Regions from separate parts of the Homo sapiens genome. Here region 2 is linked to region 1. Evidence: fine-mapped expression QTL. A gene starts in region 1. The other region holds a variant in brackets. All regions are shown on one strand. Distances are between the middles of the regions.

Region 1 (4,396 bases):
GGTTACGGGCCGGGCACAGTGGCTCATGCCTGTAATCCCAGCACTTTGGGAGGCTGAGGCGGGTGGATCCATGAGGTCATGAGATCGAGACCAGCCTGACCAACATGGTGAAACCTCGTCTCTACTAAAAATAGAAAAATTAGCTGGGCGTGGTGGCATGGGCCTGTAATCCCAGCTACTCGGGAGGCTGAGGCAGGAGAATTGCTCGAACCTGGGAAGCGGAGGTTGCAGTGAGCCGAGATCGCGCCACTGCACACCAGCCTGGTGACGGAGCGAGACTCCGTCTAAAAAAAAAAAAAAAAAAAAAAAGAATTGAGTTACAAATGTATACAATTATGCAAATGTAAATATGATTACATTTATAAAATATATGTATTTATCAATATATAGAGAAAAACGGACAGACATCAATAAATTGAAAAAAGTATGGAAAACATAAACCCATATATTAACTTACTTAATATTTGTTTTATAGTCCTGGGTTTCTGCCTATTCCTAAAAGTATATTTCATAAAATTAAAACTTTTTTTAAAAAGGCAACTATCTTACTTATTCCTATTTTGATTTATTCTTCCTTACTGGGATACCAAGTCATTTGAGGATAGCAACTATATCTTTTTGTCTTGAGACACAGTTAGATAGATTTTTGAATTTTTAACAGAGCAATCTTTTCTCTGAACAAGTGGGAAAAAATCCTCCCTGCCTTACCTTTTAAATATCTTTTGATCTGGAGGAGAAAACTTAGTATACTCTAGAACAAAGGTCCTCTAAATATAGTCCCTGGGAACTTGTTACCAATGCAGATTCTCTGCTCTACCTCAGACCTACCGAATTAGAAACTCTGGGGCTGGGGCCCAGCAAACTGTTTGAACAAGCCCTGCAGGTGATTCTGATGCATCCTACATTTGAGAACCAGCGCTGCTCTAAAAACTGCTGCTGTGTTTTATTGAAAGCTTTTACTTTATTTTCATCAGTTCCCATTACCTGAACCCACCCTATGATTCGTTTGCCTGTAGAAATGTATGTCAATGTAAATCGGAGACTCTGATATTTCGTATGCATTACTGGTAGTCTCAAAGCTGCTTCCTATTATACATTCCTGATAGATGGGTTTATTTTACTTCTGAATCTATCCTCCTAATCACAGTGTCCTACAAGCAGCTGTTAAGACATCGTGTTCCATTTAATGTCACTTTGCATTTAACATCATTAGAATAAAAACTCTAAGGTATAAGATCCATTTTCTTTCACTGAGTTCTCACAGTTCGATCATATCCTGACAATGCTGCTATAGCCAGAAAGATGCCTCTTCCCTGTGAACTCCCAAGACAGGTCATCTGAATTTCTCTAGTGGCCTTTCACATCAACTATCTTTCTTATCCCTATTCCGATTTCATTTTCCTTACTGGATACCAAGTCATTTGAGGATAGCAACTATATCTTTTTGTCATTGTATCCTAACAAGTACAAGCACATGGTAAATATCTGATATTTGACTCAAATTTTGAAACTAGGGTTTATCCTCAGGGAATGGCTATAAAAGGAAGCAAAGATCTCTGCAAAATGGTGTTCATTATAGACTAGTTTTTAGTCAACAATTAGAAACATAATAGCTCGCAGTAGGCAAAAGGTTAAATAAATTATGAAGAGAAGGGCTTAAGGGCCTTGAAAGGAGGCTGTAATGGCATATTCACAGATACGTCACTGTTAGGCAGGACATTTCCAAAGAGAAGAAAGGGTCTCATGTCTTTAAAATTAAAGAGCATCTTACAAGTAATGAGGAAATATAAACTCACCTGGACTTTAGCTTTCAGATGTGTAGCAAAAATTCTTTCCTCTTTCAGGATCTTTTTTTTTTTTTTTTTTTTAACAGAAGGGTAGCACTGGAAAAGAGAAGGCAATCATGAGACAGCTGGGGTTTCTTGGATAGCACAGTAACTTAGAAAATACCCTCAATGATCATACCTGCTCACCTACTTCACCGAGCACAACCAGATGGGAGTAGGAGAGAAACTGGAACAGTGTTGACCTTCCCAATACAAGAGAGGCCAAGATCAGTGATGCCTAGGGTGGAATCTGTCTCTAATTCACAGCAGGTTCCTGGGGCTGGAGCTTTAGAAATGCTATGGTTACAAACATAGAGCTGGCTCCTCGGCGCTTCCAAGGGGGAAATATCCAGGAGGGATGCCTATTCCTGAGAACTCTTTATCGAGTCTTCTCAGAGCCTGCCTTGAGGCCGCAACCAATTTCAAAAATCTCGTCTCAAGATCAAGTCTGTGTTTTCTTGCTGGGATCCTTCACGCCTCCATGAATCTGGCTTCTCTCTTTTACCTGCTGCACATCCCAAGTGTCTGTGAGGCGATAGGGCTGAGGAATCTGCAGAGCCTAGAGCCTGGAGTCACAGTGACAATTCACACAGGTACACAACACTGTTCATTTGTCTAACGCACACACACGTACACAACCCTGTTCATTCATCTCACACACACACACACACACACACACACACACAGTCTCTCACAGGCACACAGAAACTCCTCCTCTGCTGCTCAAGCAGACAGGCCTGAAATTCTACTGAAACTCCAGGGATGACACGCCCCGTTCACGCCCTGGGTCTTCTGGTCTTCAGCGCCTCTCATCCTCACCGCCGGTTCCATTCCAACCAGGGACTGTGGAAGCCTCCGCTGATTTCTGTGGAGACGATCTACTCACCACGTAGGGGCTACAGCAGCTCGGACACCGGAAAAAGATCTAGAGCTCGAGGGTGACCCTAGCGCGGTGACTTCTGGGAAATGTAGTCCACCCGGAATAACCATGTCCACGGCGCCCGCCATTCTGTAGCCTATGCTCGGAGGGCACATGAGCAAGAGCTTGACCATCTGTACCGTTGGTTGACTTGCTCTATTAAGGGCTATGATTTCAGGTCGTCCTGCGTGTTTAGAGGAGGCGAGTGGAATCTTGAGTCTCGGCTGGAGAAGGCAGAGCACGGGCATGCAGACCTCAAAGCCTCAAACCTGCGTGTGAGAGGAGAAGTTGGCGAGCTCCAGCGTATGGTCCACGGTTGGTATTCTAGGTGCGAGCTGAGGACAGGGGCTTTTGTTTTTCGCGCTCCCAGGTAGCGCCAGCACCTATAGTAGCTCCAGGAGCACAGAAGGCGTTAAGTGTGCATTGGTTTTAGAGAAAGAATGCCTGTGCGTTTTGTGTTTTCACTCTGTGACATTGTGAAATTCATTGTGTGAGAACATGGATGGGGTTGTATTCCGGATTATGGTTTGTTTCTAAGTGTGTTACTTTGGACATGAAATGGTTTGTTTCAGATTTTGAGATTATGTAAATTTTTTAAGCCCTCTCCCTTCACTCCTACTCCCACTCTGAAATTTCTCATGCCCAATTGCCATTCTCTCACTTAAAATACGAGTCTGGCTGATTTGTCCAAGGTAAATACTACTATGGCCTACTTATCCATTAGGCTGAATGGGCAAAGTACCGAGAGCCCACAGAAATGTTTTCTTTCAAAATAAGAAAATGAATTTTAAGGTCAAAGAAACTTAATATCGTAGTCTACTGGCGAGTGTATAAATTGATATAATCACTTGGGAAAACTATTTGGCAAGATCTATTGAATTTGAATATATGCATTTGCTATAACCTAGCAGTTCCATTCTTACCTTTAACCCAAATGTAAGTGTATACATATTCACCAAAATACATGAATGGGGATGTTTGTGGCATTGCCATTTTTATTGGAATTGCACTCAATATATGGGTACTTTTCAGGAAAATTGGTATTTTAAACATTGTGAAAAGGCTGGGCGTGGTGGCTCATGCCTGTAATCCCAGCACTTTGGGGGGCTGAGGTGGGTGGATCACTTGAGGTCAGGAGGTCGAGACCAGCCTGGCCAACATGGCAAAACCCCGTCTCTAGTAAAAATACAAAAATTAGCCAGGTGTGGGGGCCCGTGCCTGTAGTCCCAGCTACTTGGGAGGCCGAGGCAGGAGAATCGCTTGAATCCAGGAGGTGGAGGTTGCAGTGAGCCGAGATCGTGCCACTGCACTCCAGCCTGGGAGAAAGTGTGAGATTCTGTCTCCCCCTACAAAAAAAGAAAAAGAAAATTGAGAAGGGACCTCCAGGAAGATGGAATAGATGTACTTTTTTCTATTTGTCCAGCTAAGTACAATAAAAACCCTGGGCATTAGTTATAAAAAAAGAGAAAAAGAACACTGAGTGGTAGAGAAAAGGTAGACTGGTGCTGAGTTCCCTTGATTTTCTTTGTGCCTCCTTTGTGCCAGACTTAAAGCCAAAGAAGCTAGCAGTCCCAATACACCAATGGGCACAGACAAAAAAGTCCCAGCAAAAGCCTGCTGTCTTTAGCCAAAAGACAAGGAAGAGGGCAGC
Region 2 (4,396 bases), 96 kb before region 1:
GTCTCCCAGCCCTGATCAAACTAGGCTGGGCTAGCGTCTGTCTCCCCTACCGGGCTGTGAACTCTTCGGGGGCCTCCAGGAATGTCTGAGATACCGTATGACTGAACGAATGAATCAATGAATGAAGACACAAACAGAGAGGCACCAAGAGACATACAGGGAGAGACAGACACAAAAGAGAAACAGAGAGAGAGGAAGAGAGAGAGAGAGAGTGTGCCTTCGAGGAAGCAATTACACATGAGATGCAGAAAGACAGACACAGCCTGCTGTGAACAGATGTGACTGTGTAGTCACACAGACAAACCTAGAGGTGAAGAGGGACACCCCGATAGACACGACATGCCCCCAGGTGTTTCAGAAACATTTATTAAATGAATGAAATCAAGAAGATGGAGATACAGCAGACAACCAGAGGGTCACTGTCCCCCGAGGACACAGGCAGACACATGTGGATGCTCAGACACTCAGCAGGTGAGGAGGTCCAGAGGAGGCCCCAGCAGGTGGTTGGTGCTGAGGCAGAGACCCCAGGCTAGCACCTCCTGGTTTGTCTCACTTCTTGCTGCCTGGAGATGCTGCCTGCTGGATCAGGCTAGTGGATACTAGCCACAGAGTGGGCACCAGCCATGTGCAGACACCCAGAGTCTCAGACCCACATCTGGATGGCAGAGTCCACGTAACACTGGTGACCAAAAGAGCCTTAATGGTCCCCTCAGATCGACTAAACTTTAGACAGGTTTCTTCCTCTCGGCCCTGGATCACGCTTTTTGTAGGACACTTACTTTAGAAAACTTGTACAGTCATCCCTCGGTATTGTTTTCTATTTCTATTTTTTTTATTGTTTTTTGGTTTCAAAATATTTTTTATCCAAAGTTGACTGAATGCGTGGAGGTAGAACCTGTGGATGCAGAACCCCATAGACACAGAGGGCCAAATATAATTGCAAATTCTTTCTCTGCTCCCCCCGCACCCCCTCTCTTTTTCTTTTTGAGACGGCGTCTCACTCTGTTGCCCAGGCTGGAGTGCAGTGGCGTGATCTCGGCTCACTGCAAGCTCCGCCTCCCAGGTTCACACCATTCTTCTGCCTCAGCCTCCCGAGTAGCTGGGATTACAGGCATGTGCCACCATGCCTGGCTAATTTTTGTATTTGTAGTAGAGACAGAATTTCACCATGTTGGCCAGGCTGGTCTTGAATTCCTGACCTCAAGTGATCTGCCCGCCTCGGCCTCCCAAATTGCTGGGATTACAGACGTGAGCCACTGTGCCCGGCCTTCTCTGCGCCTTTGAAATGTAGGTAAATCTTCTCCTGGTCTCTTGCCAGCGTTACAACCCAGGAATGTCTTTTTCAAGGACCTGGGAATTATCCCTTTGAAATCATCAAGGGAGATAGCACCCCTATCGCCCAGTCTCTGTGGGAGGGTAGGAGCCTCACTTTGATAATTGACAATCAGCAAACTCAGATGGCCCAATCACAGAGAAAAACATTTGCAGACTCAGGAATAACTCCATGTGATGGACACATCCCATTGACAGAATAACTCCATGTGATGGACACATCCCATTGACCCACCTCCCCCATTGTCCTCCAATATTTTTCCATTAACTCACCTAGGGCTTAACCACCCTAGCA[T/C]ATTTGTTTCAGTGGAGTTGAGTTCAGTCTCTTTCCCTATTGCAATCTCCTTGAATAAAGTCTGCCTTGCCTGTGCAATTTTTCTTTGACAGCAGCCACTATGGACACTCACCAAACTATGTCCTCCCTTACTGTCATCTTGCCAAATCCCTCCTCTTCCCATCAGGCCTCACTTCCCAGAACCTGTTTTGCATACAAATTATTCTTCCTTCCTGATTCTCCAGTTTCTGCCCCAGGCTCTCAGTGGGGGTCTATCCAGACCGGGGCAGGGTTGTGCTCGGGGGTCTCTGGAGAGTGGAGTCTGGCCAGGAAGGAGGATGGTTTTTCTGAAGCCCCCGTGGAAGGTGGAGGCACTGAAGGTCTTCACAGCAGTTGTCAGTTTCAGGGATTGAGGCTTACAGGGTAGGCAGACCAGTCTGGTGAATGCATGAGTATGTGAGTGCTGTGTGCACTTTTGATTCTGGTATCATTCAGGTACTTTTGGAGACTTTGAAGTGTCAGCTCCCTGTACCTTTTGGGAGCATCCATCTGGCTGTCTTCATCTGCCTGGTGTCTGAGTGTTCACGAGTCTGTTGAATGCCTTAGAATTCTGAATGCCTTAGAATGTTCTCAAGGATCTTCTGTTGCATTCCATCAGTTTCCACGCATGGTTCCATTTCCAATCATGTTTGCAAACATCTGGCCTCTCAAAATTTTTTTTCATATTTGATTTTCATAAGCAGTTTACTAAATGTGGGTACCTTCTAGGGTTTGTGGCCCAAATAGTTGAGAAGTATTTAGTATTTCTTGCCTTATTGGAAATGATTCCATTAATCAAACAAGTCATAATTGTAATGCGTTTTAAGATATTCCCTAAGTAATGTGGGTCATCCCTTGCTTCCAGTCCTCATGTTCTGCATAAATGTTATTTCACACATTATCAGAATTGTGAATTTTCTTTTGGAACTCTAGTCATGACCTTGTCAAAAATTGGATCATGCAGATTGTATGCCAATATATTCTTTTGTTATTTTGTTATTTTTATTTTTTGAGACCGAGTCTCACTCTGTTGCCCAAGCTGGAGTGCAGTGGCGCCATCTTGGCTCACTGGAACCTCCGCCTCCCAGGTTCAAGTGATTCTCCTGCCTCAGCCTCCCAAGTAGCTGGGATCACAGGTGCCTGCCACCATGCCTGGCTAATTTTTGTATTTTTAGTAGACACAGGGTTTCACCATGTTGGCCAGGCTGGTCTCAAACTCCTGACCTCAGGTGATCCACCCGCCTCGGCCTCCCAAAGTGCTGGGATTACAGGCGTGAACCACCACACCTGGCCTCTTTTGTTGTTTTCACATGCATTCTTCCTGCAGCATCAATATCTCTTTCTTTCAAATCAGATCTTAATTTTCTTTTACAGTTCAGTAGTATCAAGTGTATTCATGTTTTGTACAATCAATATCCAGAACTTTTCATCTTGCAAAACTGAAACTCTTTACCCATCAAACAACTCCCCTTTCTTCTATCCCTCCTCCCCACACCCCCTGGCAAGCATCATTCTACTTTGTTTCTGTGAATTTGACTACTCTAGATCAGGGATCCCCAACCCCCGGGGCCTGGTACCAGTACCTGTTAGGAACGGGGCCGCACAGCAGGAGGTGAGCGGTGGGTGAGGGAGGGAAGATTCATCTGTATTTACAGCCTCTCCCCATTACTTGTACTACCACCTGAGCTCTGTCTCCTGTCAGATCAGTGGCTTAGATTCTCATAGCAGCGTGAATCCTATTGTGAATTGCGTATGCAAGGGATCTAGGTTATGCATTCCTTATGAGATTATAATGCCTGATGATCTGTCACTGTCTCCCATCACCCCTAGAGGGGACCATCTAGTGGCAGGAAAACAAGCTCAGTGGGCCAAGCGTGGTGGCTCATATCTGTAATCCTAGCACTTTGGGAGGCTGAAGCAGGAGGATCACTTGAGGTCGGGAGTTCAAGATGAGCCTGGTCAACATGGTGAAACCCCATCTCTACTAAAAATATAAAAATTAGCTGGGCATAGTGGGCACGCCTGTAATCCCAGCTACTCAGGAGGCTGAGGCAAGAGAATCCTTGAACACGGAAGGCGGAGCTTGTGGTGAGCTGAGATCACACCACTGCAGTCCAGCCTGGGCGACACAGCAAGACACCGTCTCAACAAAACAAAACAAAACAAAACAAAACAAACCCAACAAGCTCAGGGCTCTCACTGATTCTACATTATGGTGAGTTATATAATTATTTCATCATATATTACAATGTAATAATAATAGAAATAAAACGCACAATAAATGTAATGCTCTTGAATCATCTGAAACCATCCCCCACTCCCCAGGTCCATGGAAAAATTGTCTTCCACACAATCAGTCTCTGGTGCTCAAAAGGTTGAGGACCGCTGCTCTAGATAACTCATATAAGTGAAGTCATATAGTACTTGTCCTTTAGTGACTGGCTTATTTCACTTAGCATAATGTCCCGAAGGTATAACCATGTTGTATGTAGCATGTGTCAGAATTTCCTTCCTTTTAAAGGCTGAACAATATCCCATTGTGTGGATACACCGCATTCTATTTATTCATTCATCCTTCCATCAATGGACACTGGGGTTGTTTCGCCTCTGGGCTATTGTGAGTAATGCTGTTATGAATATGGCTGTACAAATATCTGTTTGGGACCCTGCTTTGAATTTTTTTGGTTATTATATCAAATCATTTTGAATGTTGCACGCTCTTGTGGAAGTGCCCCTCACCTCATTTTCTTT

The links. PIP is the estimated chance that this variant, and not a neighbour inherited with it, causes the effect.
Region 2: its variant is fine-mapped to the expression of ZNF45-AS1 in substantia nigra (GTEx, PIP 0.95).

What each region holds. Positions count from the first base shown.
Region 1 is chr19:43,899,072-43,903,467 of GRCh38, forward strand. It overlaps ZNF45-AS1 (ZNF45 antisense RNA 1), which reads left to right and starts at 2,795. Exons shown (of 3, transcript NR_184050.1): 1 at 2,795-3,073. It overlaps LOC100505715 (a long non-coding RNA gene), which reads right to left and starts at 2,732. Exons shown (of 3, transcript NR_038334.1): 1 at 1,966-2,732; 2 at 1,797-1,883. RefSeq lists an enhancer at 2,666-2,735.
Region 2 is chr19:43,802,870-43,807,265 of GRCh38, forward strand. It overlaps a transcript of LYPD5 not described here. Among named protein-coding and RNA genes, the nearest start is that of LYPD5, 2.6 kb to the left of the region's middle. The variant T/C (reference allele first, on the strand shown) is at 1,628.